3 linked regions of the Homo sapiens genome follow. The protein of the gene in region 1 interacts with the protein of each later gene in a biochemical or structural test. Each region holds a gene or a part of one and is shown on either strand. Other genes may lie near its edges.

Region 1 (7,739 bases):
AAGCCCCTCGGTGTCCCTTGACCACTGCATTTCTACCACATGCCTTTTACAAATTCAAACAATGCTGGAAGACAGCTATAGTTATTTCCATTTTGTGGATTTGGATGCCACAGCCCCATCAGGGTCAGTCACTCTCAAGCTGGAGTTGAGTCAGTGACGGGGCCAGTGAAGGACATGGGCAAGTGGTGGCTGGCCCAGAGACCATCACACCTAGTAGATTGAGAGCTATGATACATAAGCTGAGAAAGGCCAGCCTCACCTCCCTTCTTTAAAAAGTACAAAAAGCCCTGAAAATAGTCGCGAGGTAAAGTGTGGCTAAGGGTTTGGAGTTAGACCTGTGCATAAGGCCCCAGCCCTACCACTTAGTAGCTGTGTCCAGGGCCAAAAGCCTCACCTCCCTCACAGGGCTCCCTAGCTCTGAGTAAACACTCCAAACACTCAAATTATGATGATTTGAGAATGCTCCCGAAGTCTCAAACTATCTTCTCTTTGGAAACTGTTTCCAGCTCTAATGGCAGACGGCATGACTAAGAGATAAAGGCAGGAGCCATCCTGATCTAGAATGAGACTACAGATTAGGCAACAAAAGCTCTAAACCTTTTCAGAGCTCACCCTCTCCAAAGGTCAGTCAACCTAATAGTAGGCAAGGCCCTTGGGGGAAAAGTTTTGGCAGCATTCGTGTCCTTGAGCCCAAGTTACAGTGAACTTAGGACACGAGGCAGTGGACCAGAGACCCCCACCATAGCAAACCTCTCTAGGGAGGACTCTCCCCACTGTTGCTACTGGAATCCTGCTTTTTTTTTTTTTTTTGAGACTGAGTTTTGCTCTTATTGCCCAGGCTACAGTACAACGGCACGATCTCAGCTCACCGCAACGTCTGCCTCCCAGGTTCAAGCAATTCTCCTGCCTCACCCTCCCGAGTAGCTGGGATTACAGGCATGCACCACCACACCTGGCTAATTTTATATTGTTAGTAGAGATGGGGTTTCACCATGTTGGTCAGGCTGGTCTCAAACTCCTGACCTCAGGTGATCCTTCTGCCTCGGCATCCCAAAGTGCTCGGATTACAGGTGTGAGCCACCGCGACTGGCTAATTTTGTATTTTTAGTACAGACGGGATTTCTCCACATTGGTCAGGCTGGTCTCGAACTCCCGACCTCAAGTGATCCATCTGCCTCGGCCTCCCAAAGTGCTGAGATTACAGGCATGAACCACCGTGCCTGGCCAGGATCCTGCTTTTTGACTTGTTTCAAAGGTTTGATTTCATTACCAATGAAGCTGGGGAGGTGAAGCAGGAGACAGCAAAATTGGTTACATGAAACAGAGAGGCAATGAATACTTGAGATACTGGCTACGGATCTGATTCAATCAGAAGTTTATTCCAGTTAAATGGTCAGTCTCTCTTCTCTCCATCTCCCCTGAATATAATGTTGCTGATTCTAAACAGTGGCTCTCCAGTTGGTGACAATCGAAATCAGCTGGGAGCTCAAAACTCCTGACACCTAGGTCCTACCATGAAAATTCTGATGTAATTGGTCCGGGATGTGGACTAGGCAACAGAATTTTTAAAACTCCCTCAGGAGATTTTAAAGCCCACCAAGATTAGAGCCCACTATTCTAAAAAGCACTGTACCCCTTATTTAAGCTACCATTAACTCCACGGTCTTGGCCCAGTGAATTCCTGACCTGACACATTAAAAACAAACCAAAACACCATAAACCAAAGCCAGCCCCCACTTCACAGCTTCAGAGCCACAGGGAGGAAGCAACTGTATGCATGCATGAAAATACAAAAATCAGCTGAAGGGGGAAAATCATCGACTGAAAAGGAGGCTCAGGCAAGTACAGTAGGAAAAAACGCACCAAATCCCTGACCCCACGTTTTCTATATGCTTCTCTGTAGAAGTCTTGTGTGCCTGTGTGTGTGTTAAGGAAAACGGGATAGTCTCGGCAAACCTGGATTGCAATCCAGTTCCACCATTTCCTTCGTGAAATTCAAGCAATTTAACCCAAGTCTCAGTTTTCTAACTTGTAAAATGGAGTGTTAAAGCCATAATCTTCAAAACCCTCAGAGAATGAATGTTAAAGCATTTGGCACCTAGTCCTTTGTGTAGTTTCCTTTGGGCGTCTCAAACATTGGGATCAGTGGTTCCCAACCCTGGCTACTAGAATCACCTGCGTGTGCTTAAAAAACATGATGCCAGGCCAGGCACAGTGGCTCACACCCATTATCCCAGCACTTTGGGAGGCTGAGGCGGGAGGATTGCTTGAGCCCAGGAATTCGAGACCAGCCTGAGCAACATAAGACCTAATCTCCACAAAAAAATTAAAAAAAAAAATTAACCGGTCATGGTGGCACACACCTGTAGTCCCAGCTACTCGGGAGACTGCGGTGGGAGGACTGCTTGAGGCAGGGAAGGTGAGGCTTTAGTGAGCCAAGATAATACCAGTGCACTCTCCAGCCTGGGCGACAGAGCAAGACCCTGTCTCCAAAAAACAAAAACAAACTCACACACACCTGTGCTTGCCTGGGCTACACCCCAGATCAATTAATCAGTATCTCAGAGATGCGGAGGGGTGGCTGATCAGTCACTAGTGTTTAAAAAGCTCTTTGGGGGATTCGGATGTGGGACCAGGGCTTACTGCCACCTAGCTAAGGTATTTAACCAGCTTTATCTAAGAGTTGCCAGGGATGTGAGGCAAAGCATCACCTCAGGGGATTCCTACAGCAAAGAAGTTTAAGAAACACTGTATTGAGGCTTGTATAAAACCTTCCCAAACTGAGGGCATTTCTACAACTCAGAAAAGTCTGCTGTTACATTTCAACTAAACTAAGTCACATAATTGCAGCATTTTACATCCAAAATTTGCTTATAAGACAGCTACCGCCAATTGCAACTTCCATCAAATGACATTCTCTCCCTGTGTTTAATACACAAACTCTTGGTCTATTTCTCTCAATGTTCTAGTGAGAAAGATGTTTATCATCAACCCCACTTTTTTGGGGAGAAAACTAGGAATCACACCTATAAGAGCCCTCTGACTCCCAACTCCTTTGCCCCTTTCATTACACAGTCCAAATCAAGAAATCATTAGTCTAATCCCTTGCAGGGCTTGTTAAAACCGATAGATGGGCTCCACCCCAAGAATGTCTGATTCAGTAGTCTCTGACAGGGCTTGAAATTTCAGCCATTTTGAATAAGTTACCAGGTGTTGCTGCTGGTGGGACCAGAGTTTGAGAACCACTGGTTTATGCTGCCTTCTTCCCATCCGCTGGTCCTTATTTTGCACAAAATGGAGCGGACTAGTCAACGTCAGCTACAGGATAACTGACTTTTCTTCAGCAGCGTCACTGGGACTGATTTTCCCTTAAGACTGCACTTTCCAGGGACGTGACAAACAAGCAAGCAAGTAGAAAGAAGATCTGGGCCAATCTTTGGTCATCTCTACCCAGGGACAATGAGCTACTCAGGGAACAGACCCTTGAGGATCCCAAGCAGACAAACCCCACAGCTGAGAGACAGATCTTGAAACATCCTCCGCTCCTTAGGCGTGGTCACCTCTGGCCTCAATGGAAGTTACAGATAGGTACCCAGGCGCCAGCTGAGGCACTGAACTCCGTGGCGCAGGTATCCTAACCTCAGGCCCCTGGCATCTCTCCCCAGGATTCCAAGCACTGAACGCACATCAGCCTGCTGGGCTCTCTCGATTTCTTTCCCTCACTGGGCCGTGTGTTCAGACGCACCTGGGAGCCCCTTCCCCACTTCCTGGAAACTCAGCGACTCCAGCCACAACCTCCAAAACGCCAAACGCTCCGCCCCAAGGAATCCTACCTCACCTTCTCATAACCTGCCCATTCATTCTCCTTCATAATCCTCCAAATCCTCATTTTCCACCCCCAAATGTCCGTTTTCAATTGATATCTCTTTGTTCTCCTCGCAATCACCAACTCCCATCTCCAACCAGCACTCAGGACTCACTTGGAGACACCCCTTCCTCACGCACACACGTATCTACTCCGCAAGCCCAAATGTGCTTCCCGGATTCCTAACCGCCAGGGAGCCTCCCTACCACCACCCCCGCCCCTAATTCTCCACCCAAAGCCCTTCCCCCACCCCGGGCCTTTCCCCTAACCAATCCCCCAAATGCCTCTCCACTATCGTGACTGCCCCTCATCACACCCCCTCCTCTCGGTCCCTTCTTATACTCTGCTGCTGCCCAGCTCCCTCGGCCGCCCTCAACCCCTAGTCCATGGGCACCGCCCTCCCTACCATGAAAAGTCGGAGGACGCAGGAGTCTCCAAACCCGGACTGAGAGAGGCAGGAAACACCCAGCTCACGCCAGCCGGGGGCGGAGGCGGGGCCGGAGCGATAACTTCCGCTGTCCGCACCCCACTTCCGCCCCGCAGAGGGCAACGTCTTAAGCCGTCCGTTGTGCGCCTAGGGGCCAGTTTTCTTTCCAGCCTCCCCGGCCGGAGTGGGTTCCAGCTTTTCTCGGCTGGGGAGGGCATTTATCCCACCTCCGCTATTTCAGCTGCCAGAGGGGAGGCAAGGTGTGGGGAAGTTTTCCTTCCCGGGCGAAGAAGCTCTGCGGAACTGTCATTTTCCGGAACTGGATGCTTGCTTCCTGGCGGGGTTCTGAAAGCGAACACCGCGGGGCAAGATGGCGGTAGTGCGTCGGCTGCTGCCCCGGGTCTGGCAGAACTCGGGTGTTTTGGGCTGAGACAGTGGCAGCTGCGGCCCCGACCCCAAGTGCGGGGACCTCCGGCGAATAAAGGTCGGCCTGCGGGTAGGCCGGTAGGGCCTGCGGTCCGGCCTGCGGGAGAACTGGGTCGTCAGTCCTCCGAGTGGTGGGGCTGGGGACTTTGAGGGAGTTGGCTCTAGGGCACAGTCCCTGCCTGGCCAGGTCGGAGGAACAAGTGCTGGGATCTGGCGTGTGTGCTCCAGGGGCTCTTTCCGCGGCCCTTTCCACCTCTTTTCACTTTGGGGACGGTAGGCCTTTATAAACGGACTAATGCTGGGTGATTTGTTCCTGTGGTTGTTGATGCCGAGGAAAGACTCTGGGCCCCAGGACTCACCTAAACTGGAGTTCGAATACTGTTCGCTCGCTGTGTGACCTTGGGTGAGTTCCCTCACCTCTCTGAGCCTCAGTTTCCTTCTGTGTAAATGGAGTAATTAGCAGGTTTCACAGAGGGTGTGAATACGTTTTAGTACCGTGCCTGACACCTAGTTCTGAATAAAGAAAAACTTGATCGTAATTTAACTCCAGCTTAGCCCCCACAGGCAATCTTGCACTCTCAACTTCTCTTTGCTTGGCCATTCTGTGAACGGGGGAGCCCTGGATCTTGTTTGTTTTACTTAGTGATAAATAACTGTTTTGGATATACATGGATTCAGATTCAAAAGCATCCACCTTAGATAGGCTGTAGCTTTCAATAAATAGTAGCTGTTAATATGAATAGTCTCTTTAAGTCGTGTTTCCTATTCTTTAAATAAAAATTAGATTATTGAGGCTGGCCACGGTGGCTCACGCCTGTAATCCTAGCACTTTGGGAGGCCGAGGCGGGCGGATCACCTGAGGTCAGAAGTTCAAGACCAGCGTGGCCAACATGGTGAAACCGCATCTCTACTAAAAATACAAAAATTAGCCGGGCGTGGTGGCGGGCGCCTTTAATCCCAGCGACTTGGGAGGCTGAAGCAGGAGAATCACTTGAACCTGGGAGGCGGAGGTTGCAGTGAGCAGAGTTCGCGCCGCTGCACTCCAGCCTGGGCAACAAAGTGAGACTCCGTCTCAAAAAAACAAAGATTATCGAGAACTGATAGAGCTGTTGAAAAGACAAGTTGGTTAAATAATCTGTGCAGTGTCTGATACACCGTCTGCCCAGAACAAGTGGTGGTGGTCATTAAACCTGGTGGCCCAGCTTTTCCTACTGCACAGGGACAATCCTCTTGGCTTAGTCAGCAGTTGGTATTTATGATGCTTCAGCTTTGGAAATATAGAGGTAAGACAAGAGTCTGAATCCTGCCTCTTAGTTATTACAGCCTTGACTCTGCCACATACTAATGGTCTAGACTGGAGTAGATGAGATCATGAATGATCTTCTCATAGGACTCCTCTCCTTATTAGATGAGATCACTTATAAAGGACTTGACACATAATGGGCACTCATTTACTTTTTTAAATGATCTTGGTTATCACCAACCTCTTATTTTCTAATCTTTCTACCTATATGATTCTTGTTTCCCTAACTAGATTGCAAGCTTCTTAAGGACAATACAATAAAGCTCACTTACATGCTACATGCTTTTAGATATCCTATATTAATATTTTCCCATTTAATCCTAATCACAATGTTGTGATGACTAAATTGAGGTACAAGAAGGATAAATGTTGCATTTAATCCTTTCAGCAACCCTAGGACATAGACACTATTATTACCCTCGATTTACACATAAGGAAACTGAGGCCTAGAGAGGATAAGTAACTTGGCCAAATGTCGGATAGAAGGAGTACTAAAAAGAACCAAGGCCCGCTTTCTCTGATGCAAGACTTTTTCTGCTGCGCACAGCCTTTTCTTTGGTTCTCCATGGCATTTAGCAAAATAAGTACTTAATAAACACTTGATTGTGTGTTTTATTAATTGACGAACTATAGTATACACTGTGCAGGTGGAGAAGGTATATAGGAAAGGATGAGAAAAACTGTAAAGTGTAGGCTATTATATGATATGAACAGAAATCAACCAATAACATTGCTGAAGGGATAATAATCTCAAGGAAGGGGATAAGAGTAATTTCTTATTCTGGGAGGGCCCCTGGGAGAAGTGAAAGTTTTAAGATCGTCTTACAGTGCTTAGGTACAGTTTGCATGCAACTTTGTTTTTCTTTTGGGAAGAGGCTCCCTCTTCCCCTTCTAATTCCATGGACCCTCTGCCATTGAGGCACTGTCTGCATGTCATGGAGGGAGCATATCATTGTGCTTGTGGCTTGGGCCCTGCTCTTTTGCAGTCCTGAGGAGCTTGAATCTGTTACTCACTCTAAACAACAGGGCCAGGAGTTCATAGCCCAAGGGACAGGACTGGTGAATCTTAGTGCATTTAAGATAGGAAAAAAGTTAATGGGTGAGAAATGTCAGACTGCCAGCATTATTTCCTACCCAGAGAACCTTAGTAACTGTCCAGGTGGGAGCCTCTGCTGAAGAGTTTTTTTTTTTTTTTAATCCTTGTGTCTATAAAAATAATACACCAGTTAGACTTCCTGACTATACACTCTACAATGTGCACTCAAGTACCTCCATAGGTACCTGATAAGCATCATCACATTTAGTCCTCATTATCAACCTCTAAGCCAATTAATAGATGAAGATGGAAAGACTCAGGGCCCAGTGTGGTGGCTCATACCTGTAATCCTAACATTTTGGGAGGCCAAGGCAGGAGGATCTCTTGAGCCCAGGAGTTTGAGACCACCAACCTGGGCAATATAGCGAGACCCCACCTCTACAAAAAATTTAAAAACTAGCCAGATGTGGTGGTATGTACCTGTGGTCCCAGCTACTTGAGAAGCTGAGGTGGGAGAATCGCTTGAGCCTGGGAGGTAGAAGCTGCAATGAACCATGATTGCACCACTGCACTCCAGCTTGGATGACAGAGCGAGACCCTGCCTTAAAAAAAAAAAAAAGACTTAGACATTCTCCCTATAGTATGTGGCAGAGCTAGGGACTGGCTCCAACTCTGTGTGACT
Region 2 (7,107 bases), on another chromosome or scaffold:
ATTATCAGACTTAGTATTTGTCAGTTTGGTGGCTAGAATAAGCCGTTATGATTCCCTGATTACTGATGAGGTTGAACATATTTTTATGTTTGTTGGTCATTACTGTTTTCTGTAAACCTTATTCCTAATATGTTCTCATTGTTCTCTAGGGTTTTCTTTTCCTTGTTGATTTCTAGGAGGAATTATTTCTGTATTTTGAATAACGTTCTTGTCTTCTATATGTTATTCACATCCTTTTTCAGTCTGTGGCTTATCTTTTCATTTAATCTGCCTATAATTGATTTTTATGTATACTATGAGATCAGATTGGGTTCTAATTTTATTTTTTCATATTGGTAAAGTGTTCCAACACCATTAACTTTTCCTACTTTTTTTTTCCTTCTCTTTTGAGACAGGGTTTCACTCTGTGGCCCAGGCTGGAGTGCAGTGGTGTGATCACAGATCACTGCAGTCTTGACCTCCCTGGGCTCAGGTGATCCCCACCTTCTGAATAGCTGGGACCACAGGCATGTGCCAGCTACCACACCTGGCTAATTTTTGTATTTTTTGTAGAGATGGGGTCTTGCCATGTTGCCCAGGCTGGTTTCCAACTCCTGGGCTCAGTTGATTGGCCTACCTTTGCCTCCCAAAATGCTGGGTTTACAAGTGTGAGCCGCCACCATGCCCAGCCTTTTCTACTTTTTTTTTTTTTTTTCTTTTGAAATAACTTCAGATTTGCAGAAAAGTTAACATAAGTAGTACGAAGGATTCCCATATACCTTCATGCAGATCCATCAAATGTTGATGTTTAACATTTTTGCTTGCTCTTGTGTGTACTCTCTCTTCCCCCCTCCCTTCACATTCGATTTTGTTTTTTGGGGGAACCATTCAAGGGTAAGTTAACAGATACTGTCTCTTCACCCCTACATTCTTCAACTAGGACATTTTCTTACAATAGAATTATCAAAATCAGGAAATTAATGTTGATAGAGGACTATTATCTACCAGCCCTATTCAGATTTCACCACTACTGTTCTTTAAAGCAAAATAATGATAATAATATTTTTCCTGATACCAAGATTGCATTTGGTTGTCATGCCTCTATTCTCTTTACTGACTTTTAGTGTTGCCTCTACTAAGAAGCACATTTTCATATATGATATGTCTGCTTTGGGGCTTTTCTTTTTCATTAGTCTGTCCATTTCTGTACTGATTCCATATTTTCTTAATGATTTCTTTAGCTGATGAGGAAGTCTTAAAATCTAGGAAAGTGTCCCCTCTGTTTTTTCTTTTTTTGTTTTGTTTTTGTTTTTGAGACAGTCTCGCTCTGTCTCCCGGGCAGGGGCTTGATCTCGGCTCACTTCAGCCTCCACCTCCTGGGTTCAAGCGATTCTGCAGCAGCCTTCCAAGTAGCTGGTTGGGATTACAGGTGTGCACCAGCATGCCTGGCTTATTTTTGTATTTTTAGTAGAGATGGGGTTTCATCATGTTGGCCAGGCTGGGTTTTTTTTTTTTTTTTTTTTTTGTGTGTGTGTGTGTGTGAGACAGAGTCTCACTCTGTCACCCAGGCTGGAGTGCAGTGGTGCGATCTCGGCTCACTGCAAGCTCTGCCTCCTGGGTTCACACCATTCTCCTGCCTCAGCCTCCCGAGTAGCTGGGACTACAGGCGCCCGCCACCACGCCTGGCTAATTTTTTGTATTTTTACTAGAGACAGGGTTTCACCGTGTTAGCCAGGATGGTCTCGATCTCCTGACCTCGTGATCTGCCCACCTCGGCCTCCCAAAGTGCTGGGATTACAGGCGTGAGCCACTGTGCCCGGCCTTTTTTGTTGTTTTTTTTTTTTTTTTAAGACAGAGTCTCGCTCTGTCGTCTAGGCTGGAGTGCAGTGGTGCGATCTCGGCTCACTGCAGCCTCCGCCTCTGGAACATTAAATGTTCCAGACCAGTCTGGCCAACACGGTGAAACTCCATCTTTACTAAAAATACAAAAATTAGCCGGGCATGGTGTTGCACGCCTGTAATCCCAGCTATTTGAGAGGCTGAGGCAGGAGAATAGCTTGAACCTGGGAGGTGGAGGTTGGCTCGGCTACAGAGCGAGACTCTGTCTCACACACACAAAATAACACAGCAGGTGTATGAGGAACATTAAATGTCTTTCCTAACTTACTGTATGCAAATAAAAGTAGATACTTAAGAAATTGTCTAAAAATATTTAGTAAACCCATTTCTACACAGACAAATTAAAAGTTCTGAGAAATCAGGCTAAAATCACCTCAAATTTATAAGGTTTGATTAATAAATATTTACCTTTGCATATACACGAAAGCAAAAAAAGGTAGGAATACTTTCAATTTCAGATAACAATAAATTGAAATCAAGTACAAATTTTGACTCCCCTTCCTAAACTGAATAAACTCTTAAAAAGCAGACACACTTTACTTGTGTAAACACTCTTCTTTTTTTTTTTTTTAAATGGAATTTCTCTCTTGTTGCCCAGGCTGGTGTGCAATGGTGTGATCTTGGCTCACCGCAACCTCCACCTCCCGGGTTCAAGCGATTCTCCTGCCTCAGCCTCCCGAGTAGCTGGGATTCCAGGCATGTGCCACCATGCCCGGCTAATTTCGTATTTCTAATAGAGATGGGGTTCCTCCATGTTGGTCAGGCTGGTCACGAACTCCCAATCTCAGGTGATCTGCCTGCCTCGGCCTCCCAAAGTGCTGGGATTACAGGCCCAGCCGTATCCACTCTTTTAAATTTAGGCATCCATGTCACTGGAATTATGTTTTTCACAGGATCACTTTTAAATTCATTAAGAAGTTTCTTTATGTATATAAGCCTATTCATTTTACTTGAAAGGTTTTCTGTCTTCCCAAAGTCAAATCCTTACTAACTAAAATTAGGAATTTTGAAAAACCATCCATGAAAATCTCACAAACACATTAAAAAATGTATTATCTAAGGTGCATAAAATTAAACTCCATATTACCAATAGCATTTAAGAAACTCATATAAAATGATAATGTTTTCTTTAAAGAGACATACTGAAAGCCAAGTCAGTTGTTCACAGGAGGTGGTTTTGCACCATTATTTGAACTTTGATGTGTGAATTTGCTTTAGAAGTCCATGGTCTGTTTACTCTCTGACAGATTCTGTTTTCACATGCCCCTCACATGAAGGTTCACTCCTCATTCTTTTTTTTTTTTTTTTGAGACAGGTTGGGTGGGACTGCTTCAGGATTCTAAAAGACAGTACCTTCTGGTGCACTTTCTAAGATGGAACATAATTCTACTCTTTGAAAATCATTAGAGAGTATATATTAATGAACTTTGGCTTCTATGAACTTTCTGGGCATGCCTGTTTGATTGGTGCAGAGTCCTTGGCTGTAACAGAAACATCAAATAGGGAAAACGATTTCCTTATGGTTGATTGACTTACATCAGTATAAAATTGATGAGGAATTTATATACACGTTGTATACTGCTGTTAATGTTTGGTACAGTGCTTTCTTTAGTGTTTTCATTTTGAGGGGTTATTAGATTCAGCATTTTCTGGAGCAGAATGCTTTTTAAAGGGGATTTGGTCTTTTTGGGAAATAATTTATAAAGGTTAATTTGGAAAAAGCTGAATTTAAATACGTGTAGCTCTTATAATTATGAGCTTTTTACATTTACACTGACGTTCTTTTGTATAGGAGTTAAAGTTCCTCGTAATTTTCGCTTGTTGGAAGAACTTGAAGAAGGACAAAAAGGAGTAGGCGACGGTACAGTTAGCTGGGGCCTTGAAGATGATGAAGATATGACACTTACAAGGTGGACAGGCATGATTATTGGGCCACCAAGGGTCAGTGTTATAAATTATATTTTTTCTATTAATACTTATTGTTAAAGTTAGCATTTAATTTTATACTATTGATATTAAAATAAGCAATTATGATAACTTCTAAAATAGTTCCTTTTTATTTTGTTTACATTTATTGATGCTTCCCACGTGCAGGATATAATGCTCGATTACGTAGAGGATTGGGGGGAGGAAGGTTGATATGGTCATTGCCATCAAAGTTTTGCAGTTTAGTAAGGGAGAAAAAATCAGTACAAATGACAGATTCTAAATATGACAGAGCAAGTTCACTACGGGACTTTAGAATATGTTTCTTCTAGCTGGAATAATTGAGGAAGGCTGAACAGTGGAGGAAGTTGCCTTTGGAATGATCCCTAAAGGACTGACTGGTAGGATTTCAGAAGGTGGTGATGGGGATGGAGAACATTCCAGATAGAGAGGAGAAAAGGTGAGGAAATGGAGGGGGTATGTGGGGAGAGCAGTCATTTTGACGTAACATGTTACCTCTTGTGTGAACCTGAGGGTTTCTAAATTGGTTTGCATTGAGTGCATGTTGCTATTTGCCCTCTGACACTTCACATGCCATAGAAATGCTGTAGGTCTCAGCTTCTTCATCTATAAAAAGTCTATGATTCTTACATTTTTTTCTAGTATGGTTGGCAACTGGCCCATTGTACTTTGTCTTTCTTGGGTTTATGAAGTTTTATTTTTACTCAAAGTCTTTTAGTCTTTTTTTCTAGCTTGGGATTTTTTTTTTTTTTTACATTGCATTCCTTACTTAATGGTCCCATCCACTGCACTCCCTGCAGTGAATCTTTGAAATTTGTCTCTCTAATGTTTTTGGCTTGTTGGAAAGAGCACACATTTGAAGGGTTTTTTAAGTCTTTGGTTTTGTATACTGGTTGCTACCTTATGATGAGAGCATTTTAACTGTTTTGCTCTTGGGTAGAGTTTAGAGTTCCTCCTGATGATGATGATGATGATGATGATGATGATTATTGAGACAACATCTTGTTCAGCCACCCAGGCTGGAGTGCAGTGGTGTGATCTCAGCATACTGCAATCTCAGCCTCCTGGGCTCAAGCGATCCTTCCACCTCAGCCTCCTGAGGTGGTGTGCACCACCACTGCTGGCTAATATTTGTAGTTTTTGTAGAGATGGGGTTTCACCATGTCGGCCAGGCTGGTCTCGAACTCCTGGCCTCAAGTGATCCACCTGCCTTGGCCTCCCAAAATGCTGGGATTACAGGTGTGAGCCACTGCACCCAGCCCCTCCTGATTATTACAAAAGAAAAATGTATCAGGTAATTAGCAACATTAATTATAGAGAATGAATTAGTGTGTGTTTTATGTTGTTTTCTGGTGTTCCTTTGCAAAATTCATGCACACTCCTACACTGATAGGCTCCCTGTTTACTCCCTTGCTCTATTTTTTCCTGAAGACATTTTAGGAAGGAAATATAATGTTGATATGTTGATGGATAGAGTTCCATATGACTTGGTATATATAATGGAAGCCTTGATTTTCACTGCCTGTGAACATCATTACTGTGGTCTGTTTGGTTTAAAAAAAGCGCTTATAATTGATGAACATTCTGACTTACTGATTTGAAGATTTAACAGTCAGAACTTGGTAGAATATAAATTTGAAATTATTTAGATTTCGTTTTTCTCTAGCCACTGCCTGCAGCAGACTTTAAGAATGTTTTGGAACTTGTGATGAGTTCATCAGTGGTCTTGTGGGCTGACCCACAGCACAGTTCCTAGCTGTCGTGGACCGGTTCCTGCTTGGTCTTTCACCCGGTTGGGGTCCCCTGCAGGATGCCCCAACTAGTTGCCATTCCTGGTGTCACCGAACCTCAGGAAACTCTATCCACTGGGATGGGGGTGAAGGCTGCTTCTCTGCAACTCTCTCCCCTCTCAGGGCACACAGACAAAATGCTACTGTGGTCCTCCATTCCCTGTGGGTGGTGGTTTTGGAGCTGCAGGAGAGAAAAGGTCATAATAGCCTTTCCTCACTTGTCTCAAGCTTCACGCTGAGGCACTTATAATAAAAAGCAGAGAAAAGCATACAAATTTATTTAAGTTTTACATGACATGGGAACATTCAGAAAGGAAGACCCAAAGAAACAGGGAAACCGTGTATTTTTATGCTAAATTTGATGAAGAGTGGACAGTGATGCAACAGCGTGATTGGATCTGATGGTAACACACTAGGTAATAAACTGGGGGAACTTACCAGGGCCTGTTTGTTCACATTATTCCTGTGTCTTTGGATTTCATTCCTTTCTTGGCATAAGACAAGACCCCTTTGGAGTGGTTCTCATGACCTACCTACTTCGTGGGGAGGTCAGCTAGATTTTAGGGTCTGCTTCAGGGGAGAAGGGGGCGAAGGTAAGGTAAGAGTAACCTTGCTTCTGCTGTTTTCTTAAGTGCCAAGGTGCCGTATTTTGGGATAGTATGTCCTGAACCTCATCAGAGACCCCCTCACTTCCTTTGAGTGCCAGGCAGAGGTAGGAGGGTGTGCCCTGCAAAGGCACAGGCTTCTTCTGGAACTGGCCTCTGCTCACCACCTGATGATCTTCTCTGCATCACCTTCTCAGTTCTCTTGAAGGCAGGTCACAGCAGGCATATTCAGTTGCCTTTTCATAAAACAGGCAGGAGTTGGTATCTTACCACAGTTGTTTTCTCCTTAGAAGGTGCAATGTTGAGAACAATTTTGTCCCCAGGGTAGAGTATCTACATCTAGCCAGGAGAGGAGGAAGACTTTTTTGTTTGTTTGTTTTTGAGACAGAGTTTGGCTCTTGTTGCCCAGGCTAAAGTGCAATGGTGTAATCTCAGATCACCGCAACCTCCGCCTCCCAGGTTCAAGCGGTTTTCCTGCCTCAGCCTCCCTAGTAGCTGGGATTACAGGCATGTGCCACCACTCCCAGCTAATTTTGTATTTTTATTTTTTTTTTTGAGACGGAGTCTTGCTCAGTCGCTCAGGCTGGAGTGCAGTGGCGCCATCTCGGCTCACTGCAAGCTCTGCCTCCCGCGTTCATACCATTCTCCTGCCTTAGCCTCCCGAGTAGTGGGACTACAGGGGCCTGTCACCACGCCCTGCTGATTTTTTGTATTTTTAGTAGAGATGGGGTTTCACCATGTTAGCCGGGATGGTCTCGATCTCCTGACCTTGTGATCCACCCGCCTCGGCCTCCCAAAGTGCTGGGATTACAGGCGTGAGCCACCGCGTCTGGCCTAATTTTGTATTTTTAGTGGGGACAGGGTTTCTCCATGTTGCTCAGGCTGGT
Region 3 (7,107 bases), on another chromosome or scaffold:
TAAACTCCAGCTTATCCCCCCCTCCCTTAAGAGTTTCCATCCTGCTTCATTTCGTTATTACATCTGTGTTAGCTTAGATTCCCTTTGAACATTTTCAGTCCACTGACGCCTGTTTAAGCAATGTCTTATATTAAATTCTGTTATAAAACCTAGTGTGGAGTCTTTTTTCCTGATTTATCCCTAACTGCCATATCCCCACTCTTCTCCCCAACAGTTACTGTGATCTGCATTCTAACATAGCATGTACCCACATTGTACATTAAACGTAATTTGTATATAACTATGTAAGATTGGAACTGAATAGCAGGTGACTGGTTGACCTAATGTTTCCTTTTTGTATGTTTAGATTTTGTAATTTTCCTTGCATATTTTTGTAATTAATACCTTTTTCCTTTTCTCATATCTCATACTTTTTTTTTTTTTTTTGAGATAGGGTCTCATTCTGTCACCCAGGCTGAAGTTCAGTGACACAATCACAGCTCACTGTAGCCTTGACCTCCTGGGATCAAGTAATCCTCCTGCCTCAGCCTCCGAAGTAGCCAAGACCACAGGCGCACCACCACACCTGGCTAATTTTTTTTTACTTTTTGTAGAGACAGGGTCTCACTTTGTTGCCCAGGCTGGTCTTGAACTCCTGGGCTCACGCAGTCCTCCTGTCTTGGCCTCCCAAAGTGCTGAGATTACAGGCGTGGGCCACCGTGCCTAGCCTAGCTCATACATTTTTAAAACAAATTTTATTTTCTAATACTTACAGGCTTATAGAAAAGTTGCAAAGGTAGTACTTCCTGTGCTACCTTTTCCCTGTTGCTAGCATCTTATGTTATTATGGTACATTTGTCACAACCAATAAACCAACGTTGATACATTATTATTAGCTAAAGTCCATACTTTATTCAGGTGTTCTTAGTTTTTACTTATATCTGTTTTTTGTTCCAGAATCCCATCCAAGATACCACATTACACTTAGTCATCATATCTCTGGCTCCTCGTGGCAATGACATTTCTCAGGTTTTTCTTGTTTTTGATGCCCTTGGCTGTTTTGAGGAGTACTGGTCAGGTATTTTGTAGACTGTCTCTCTATTGGAATTTGTCTTTTTTTTTTTTTTTTTTTAATGATTAGACTGGGGTTATCTCATATGTATGCATTTGGCCCAGGAAAAATTTATAATCTCCAGGCTCTGGGCCTGTAGTGCCTAATGGACAAAGTAGCCTGTGTGCACACAAATATATCCAGAATTGGAAGAAAGTGTATGTCTGCTTTTATAGGCTATACATATCCTACAATGTATCGTCTATACCTGGTGCCATGTTTTGCCAGTCTTTCGTATGTGTGTGTGTGCCCAAGGAGTGTCCCTCGGCCTTTGAGAAGGCTACGAAGTCTCCGGGTTATATGAATATGCCATGTTCATATAGTCCCTTGCAAGGAGACATGTAGATTGTAGTTATTTTTGCTATTGCAGACAGTGCTTCACATTTTGTGCACAAGTTTGCGTCTCTCTGAAGGAAATTGCTAGGAAGGGGCCTGCTGGTCTGAGCATGCCCATTTCACATGTTGATGAGCACTGCCAAACGGCTCCACAAAGCATGAGCCATATCAACAAAGTGGAAAGTGTTTGTTTCATGATCAAATAATGAATCTTAAGAGCAGTATTTCTCACAGACGCAGAATGTTCCAGCAATTCTCCTTCAGGCACATTTCCTTTGCTGAAACCTTTTTAGCAGGTCCCTGGAGCACTCATGAACAAAATAAAAAAACCAGAAACCCTGTAACCCTGGTTTCTATTAAAGTCTAGCTTGGGGCTTTTTTTTTTTTTTTTTGACAAAGTGTCGCAATGTCACCCAGGCTGGAGTGGAGTGGTGCAGTCTCGGCTCACTGCAACTTCCACCTCCCAGGTTTAAGCAGTTCACCTGTCTCAGCCCCCCGGTTAGCTGGGACTACAGGCACCTGCCAATATGCCTGGCTAATTTTTGTATTTTTAGTAGAGACAGGGTTTCATCATGTTGGCCAGATGGGTCTCGAACTCCTGACCTCAGGTTATCCACCCACCTCGGCCCCCCCAGATGCCGAGATTACAGGCGTCATCCACCGCACCCAGCCTTAGCTTGGGGTTTTTTGTTTTTTGTTTTTTGTTTTTGAGATGGAGTCTCGCACTGTCGCCCAGGCTGGAGTGCAGTGGCGCAATCTCGGCTCACTGCAAGCTCCACCTCCCGGGTTCGTGCCATTCTCCTGCCTCAGCCTCACAAGTAGCTGGGACTATAGGCGCCCACAACCACACCCGGCTAATGTTTTGTATTTTTAGTAGAGACAGGGTTTCACCGTGTTAGCCAGGATGGTCTCGATCTACTGACCTTGTGATCCGCCTGTCTCGGCTTCCCGAAGTGCTGGGATTACAGGCGTGAGCCAGCTCACCCGGCCTTAGGTTGGGGCTTTTAAATGACCCTTCAGGTGTGTGTCTGTGATGACTTGAGGCTTTTTTTTTTACTGTCTTCCAGTGAAATTACCAGATGAATATCAGTGGTGAGAAATTTGATTCCTTAAAATGTAAGGAATTTCATTCTTGAATTGTGTGACAAAACCAGGGAGCATGATTTTTGCTCCATTCAGGATCTATTCAGTCAACACTGAGTATATAGTTGTTGATGGAGACTATGATAGGTTCTGAGGATGGATCTGTTATATTCTCCATAAATCTGTATGTGAGTCATGCCTTTGTTTGCTTCCTACTTGTTCTGTTTACTGGGTTTTTTTTTTCTTTGAGGAAACACCTTAATTGCAATGAGGTGTTTATTTTATAATATAAAAGTGTGAAGAGAAACATTCAACAAACATTTGAGTACCAATTCAGTTGAGGGCCCCTGTCAAGGCCCCCACCCTCCTTTTTCTGTGTTTAGTGAGGGTGTCTGATGCATAACTGAGCCTCAGTTGGGAGGGGCTGAGGGGATCGGGAACACTTCCAAGGGGAAGCAGCTGGGGTGAGAGCCCCAAGGTGGAGAGAACTTGGCAAGGTTGAAGAGGAATGGTGGGCAGGGGAGGGAGAAGAGTAAAAGAAGAGGCAGTTAGGGCTGCCCGGGTCAGTCTGGGAACTTTGGCTTCCTCTTCAGGTCACTAGGAGCCATCAGAGGGTTAAGCCAGCAGAGACAGCTTCCTGTTTTTAAGACGTTGGTCTGGCTGCTGTGCCGGGAGCAAGAGAGAAAGAGACTTGGGGGAGTTCAGAAGAGGTGACGGTGGTGGAGGAAAGTGGATGGATATGGGGTCTCTTTCAGAGGTAGAACAGTGGGGTCTCTTTCAGAGGTAGAACAGTGGGACCTTCTGACCACTGGCAGGTAGAGGGTAAGGGAGAGGGGAATTGGGTTGCCTGCTAGTTTTTGCTTTAGCTAACTGGGTAGATGCTGATGTCATTCACTGAGGAGGAAGAGGGCAGGTTGAGGGTAGGTAGAAATTCACAGTTTTGGTTTGGTTGTAGTTTGGGATCCCTGTGGACAAGAAAAGTTTCCATGGGTATATTATGAATGCCTTCTGAATCAAGGGTTTAAATCACATCCTCTGATTTATTCTCCCCAAAGACCACTAGATGCCGCTGTTTACACGGGAGCAATTATGCAGTACAAGACTCCTTTCCTGAGGAGAGGGCACGGATGCCGGAGAGGGTACTGATGCCGGAGAAGGCACTGATGCCTGACAGGGGAACCCACAGAGAGGGGAGCCCCTGCCTTTGAGGGGGTTACTCTTTACTGGGAGACATCACCCTTCAGTGTGGTCTTCAGACACATGTGATAGCAGTGTGACTTCATATGGGATAGAAAGCTAGGGACTAGGTAGTGTTTGAGCTGGGTCTTCAGGGTTGCAAGGCATTTCAGGTGGGGGCAGGACGCTCCAAGCAGAAGGAACAGCCGGGCAACAGAGCGCATCTCCCTGCTTATGGGGTAGATGGTACAGTGAAGAGGTTATTGGCATAGGGGGTTGGACTTTTCAGTGTTTCTCAACAAAGGCACAGTTAGCCTTTTAAAGAAGGACGGTTTTTGGCTGGGTACGGTGGCTCATGCCTGTAATCCCAGCACTTTGGGAGGCCGAAGAGGGCAGATCAGCTGAGGTCAGGAGTTCGAGACCAGCCTGACCAACATGGAGAAACCCTGTCTCTACTAAAAATACAAAATTACCCGGCCATGGTGGCACATGCCTGTAATCCCAGCTACTCAGGAGACAGGAGAGTCACTTGAACCCGGGAGGCGGAGGTTGCGGTGAGCCGAGATCGCACCATTGCACTCCAGCCTGGGCAACAAGAGCAAAACTCTGTCTCAAAAAAAAAAAAAAAAAAAAAAGACTGCTTTTCCCTGTGCTGCCTCACCCATTGAATGCCAGTAATCTCTCAGGTCAGACTACCAAAAAAAAAAAAAAAGACTGCAGGGAGGGATGGAACACCCCAGTTGAAATCCCTTACCCAGTGCCTAACCCCGGAGTGATGGAGAAGGGGGAAGCAGCTCTGAGTCTGCACCCCTCCCTCGTCTTGTCTTAATTTTGAGGTTCTCTAAAGCAGTGACCTGTTCTGTGCTTTAATACCACATAGTGTTATTTAACTGATTGGCTGATGATCCTGGTGAGTGGACATTTAACTCGGCTTCCTAGAATAGAGAATGCCTCTTACCATTCCCCAGAGAAGGACTGCAAAGTAGAGAAATTAACATAAAAACAGGTCCCTCTGATTAGACTTAATACTAAAAACTTCACTGGTACTAGCTTAAATGCTCCATCTTCTTTGTATTCCCCCAAGGCCCGGAAGTCATATAAACTAGTGTAGGAACTAGTATAGAACTGCTGACCTACCACAGAACAAGTAGACTCCATGCTGGAAGCAGATGTACCAGTTCTACAGTCAGGGATAAATGGGGTTTCACAAGCTCTACCTTTTTGAATGCTTTGTTTGTAATTGCGTGACATCTCCGTACTCTTTTTTTCCAGACAATTTATGAAAACCGAATATACAGCCTTAAAATAGAATGTGGACCTAAATACCCAGAAGCACCCCCCTTTGTAAGATTTGTAACAAAAATTAATATGAATGGAGTAAATAGTTCTAATGGAGTGGTAAGTTGTTTTCTCTGTCCCACTTGTTCCTTGGAGTTGACAGTTGCTTTGTACTTAACATCAGGAGCTTTTAGACTGGGCCCAATTCCTAGGTTCTTTGGTTATTTGTTGATAAACTGTATCACTGTGCATAGGAGCACAGATTTGGGATGGGGCCTGTTTCCCAATTATATCTGGCGATCACTCATATAGCACTTACCCTGGGCTAGTTCTGTGCTGGTCGCTTTGAAATATGAGCTCTTTCCTCATGCCACCCCAGTGAGGTAGAGATGAGGAAACTGAGGCACAGACGTGGAAGATCTTTCCCAGGGCTACACCTTTACCCCCCTGGGCCTTATTTGTGAACCACTGGCATGTAATATTTTTTTCCTTTAATGGCCTTGCTTTTTTATTTTTACTACCATAAATGAAAAACCTGTCTCAGTTGTCATAACTGGGCAATAATGGCAACAGTAAATATTACAAAAACAGAGCAATGTTAATAAATCTTGACTCCATGTGTCATTTGCCAAAAGCTTTGAGCCTTTGAGGCCTGCTCTCCTGTTCAAAGAGGAGATCAGCAAGTGTTGAAGGGATGCTACACATGTTAACGTCACGCCAAGCCTTCGTCTTTGAGATACTCAGAAGACTGGAAAATTGAAAAGAGATGAGCTTTGTTACAGTGTGTTTAGTGTTTAATCCTGAATCTGAGTTCCACCTAAAGTCCTGAGCCCAGAGCTCAACCTGTGCTTTGGGGAATTTATTTTGGGAAATGCTGCCTTAACCTGAGAGGTGCTGGCTCTGTGGCAGGCCCTTGTCACTGGAGCAGGTGTCCTGGCCACCCTTTGCCTTGGCTGTCCGTACTGCCCTGCATGCACATCTGTCCCCCTGACCTGGGCGCAGTGAAGAGGACAGGTCCTGAGCCCGGCAGCCGCCAGCCCAGCAGCGGCCATTATTGAAGAGCCAAGTAGGGCTGGGTTGAGTCTCACCCAAGTGTCAGTACCACCGTTTCCTTATCCCAGATAGTAATGGTTCAGGGCACAAAAGGGAAAGGCAGGCTGACTGGAGGGAGGGACTCTAGCAGGTAGGTATTCCGCATGTAAGGTATTAGGATTAGCAGCAGGTTCAGCTTAAAAAGTACATCTTACTCCAGTTTGCACCTTAGCTTAACCCCGGCATATAGCTATTTTGTTTGAGAGTCTGAGAGTAATTTGCTTTTGTTTGCCTTGTTGTAGGTGGACCCAAGAGCCATATCAGTGCTAGCAAAATGGCAGAATTCATATAGCATCAAAGTTGTCCTGCAAGAGCTTCGGCGCCTAATGATGTCTAAAGAAAATATGAAACTCCCTCAGCCGCCCGAAGGACAGTGTTACAGCAATTAATCAAAAAGAAAAACCACAGGCCCTTCCCCTTCCCCCCAATTCGATTTAATCAGTCTTCATTTTCCACAGTAGTAAATTTTCTAGATACGTCTTGTAGACCTCAAAGTACCGGAAAGGAAGCTCCCATTCAAAGGAAATTTATCTTAAGATACTGTAAATGATACTAATTTTTTGTCCATTTGAAATATATAAGTTGTGCTATAACAAATCATCCTGTCAAGTGTAACCACTGTCCACGTAGTTGAACTTCTGGGATCAAGAAAGTCTATTTAAATTGATTCCCATCATAACTGGTGGGGCACATCTAACTCAACTGTGAAAAGACACATCACACAATCACCTTGCTGCTGATTACACGGCCTGGGGTCTCTGCCTTCTCCCCTTACCCTCCCGCCTCCCACCCTCCCTGCAACAACAGCCCTCTAGCCTGGGGGGCTTGTTAGAGTAGATGTGAAGGTTTCAGGTCGCAGCCTGTGGGACTACTGCTAGGTGTGTGGGGTGTTTCGCCTGCACCCCTGGTTTCTTTAAGTCTTAAGTGATGCCCCTTCCAAACCATCATCCTGTCCCCACGCTCCTCCACTCCCGCCCTTGGCCGAAGCATAGATTGTAACCCCTCCACTCCCCTCTGAGATTGGCCTTCGGTGAGGAATTCAGGGCTTTCCC

What was found.
Region 2: the proteins of UBE3B (region 1) and UBE2V2 form a complex in vitro, tested with the Homo sapiens proteins (one study listed by BioGRID).
Region 3: the proteins of UBE3B (region 1) and UBE2V1 form a complex in vitro, tested with the Homo sapiens proteins (one study listed by BioGRID).

The regions. Positions count from the first base shown.
Region 1 is NC_000012.12:109,472,989-109,480,727, forward strand, and holds the start of UBE3B (ubiquitin-protein ligase E3B), read left to right. Parts: upstream 1-4,645; 5' UTR 4,646-5,121; intron 5,122-7,739. Other genes in the region: KCTD10 (BTB/POZ domain-containing adapter for CUL3-mediated RhoA degradation protein 3), read right to left, coding at 4,272-4,274. UniProt on the Homo sapiens protein: E3 ubiquitin-protein ligase which accepts ubiquitin from an E2 ubiquitin-conjugating enzyme in the form of a thioester and then directly transfers the ubiquitin to targeted substrates.
Region 2 is NC_000008.11:48,039,363-48,046,469, forward strand, and holds part of UBE2V2 (ubiquitin-conjugating enzyme E2 variant 2), read left to right. Parts: intron 1-3,670; coding exon 3,671-3,819; intron 3,820-7,107. UniProt on the Homo sapiens protein: Has no ubiquitin ligase activity on its own. The UBE2V2/UBE2N heterodimer catalyzes the synthesis of non-canonical poly-ubiquitin chains that are linked through 'Lys-63'. This type of poly-ubiquitination does not lead to protein degradation by the proteasome.
Region 3 is NC_000020.11:50,082,105-50,089,211, reverse strand, and holds part of UBE2V1 (ubiquitin-conjugating enzyme E2 variant 1), read left to right. Parts: intron 1-4,957; coding exon 4,958-5,083; intron 5,084-6,297; coding exon 6,298-6,444; 3' UTR 6,445-7,107. Other genes in the region: PEDS1-UBE2V1 (TMEM189-UBE2V1 fusion protein), read left to right, coding at 4,958-5,083, 6,298-6,444. UniProt on the Homo sapiens protein: Has no ubiquitin ligase activity on its own. The UBE2V1-UBE2N heterodimer catalyzes the synthesis of non-canonical poly-ubiquitin chains that are linked through Lys-63.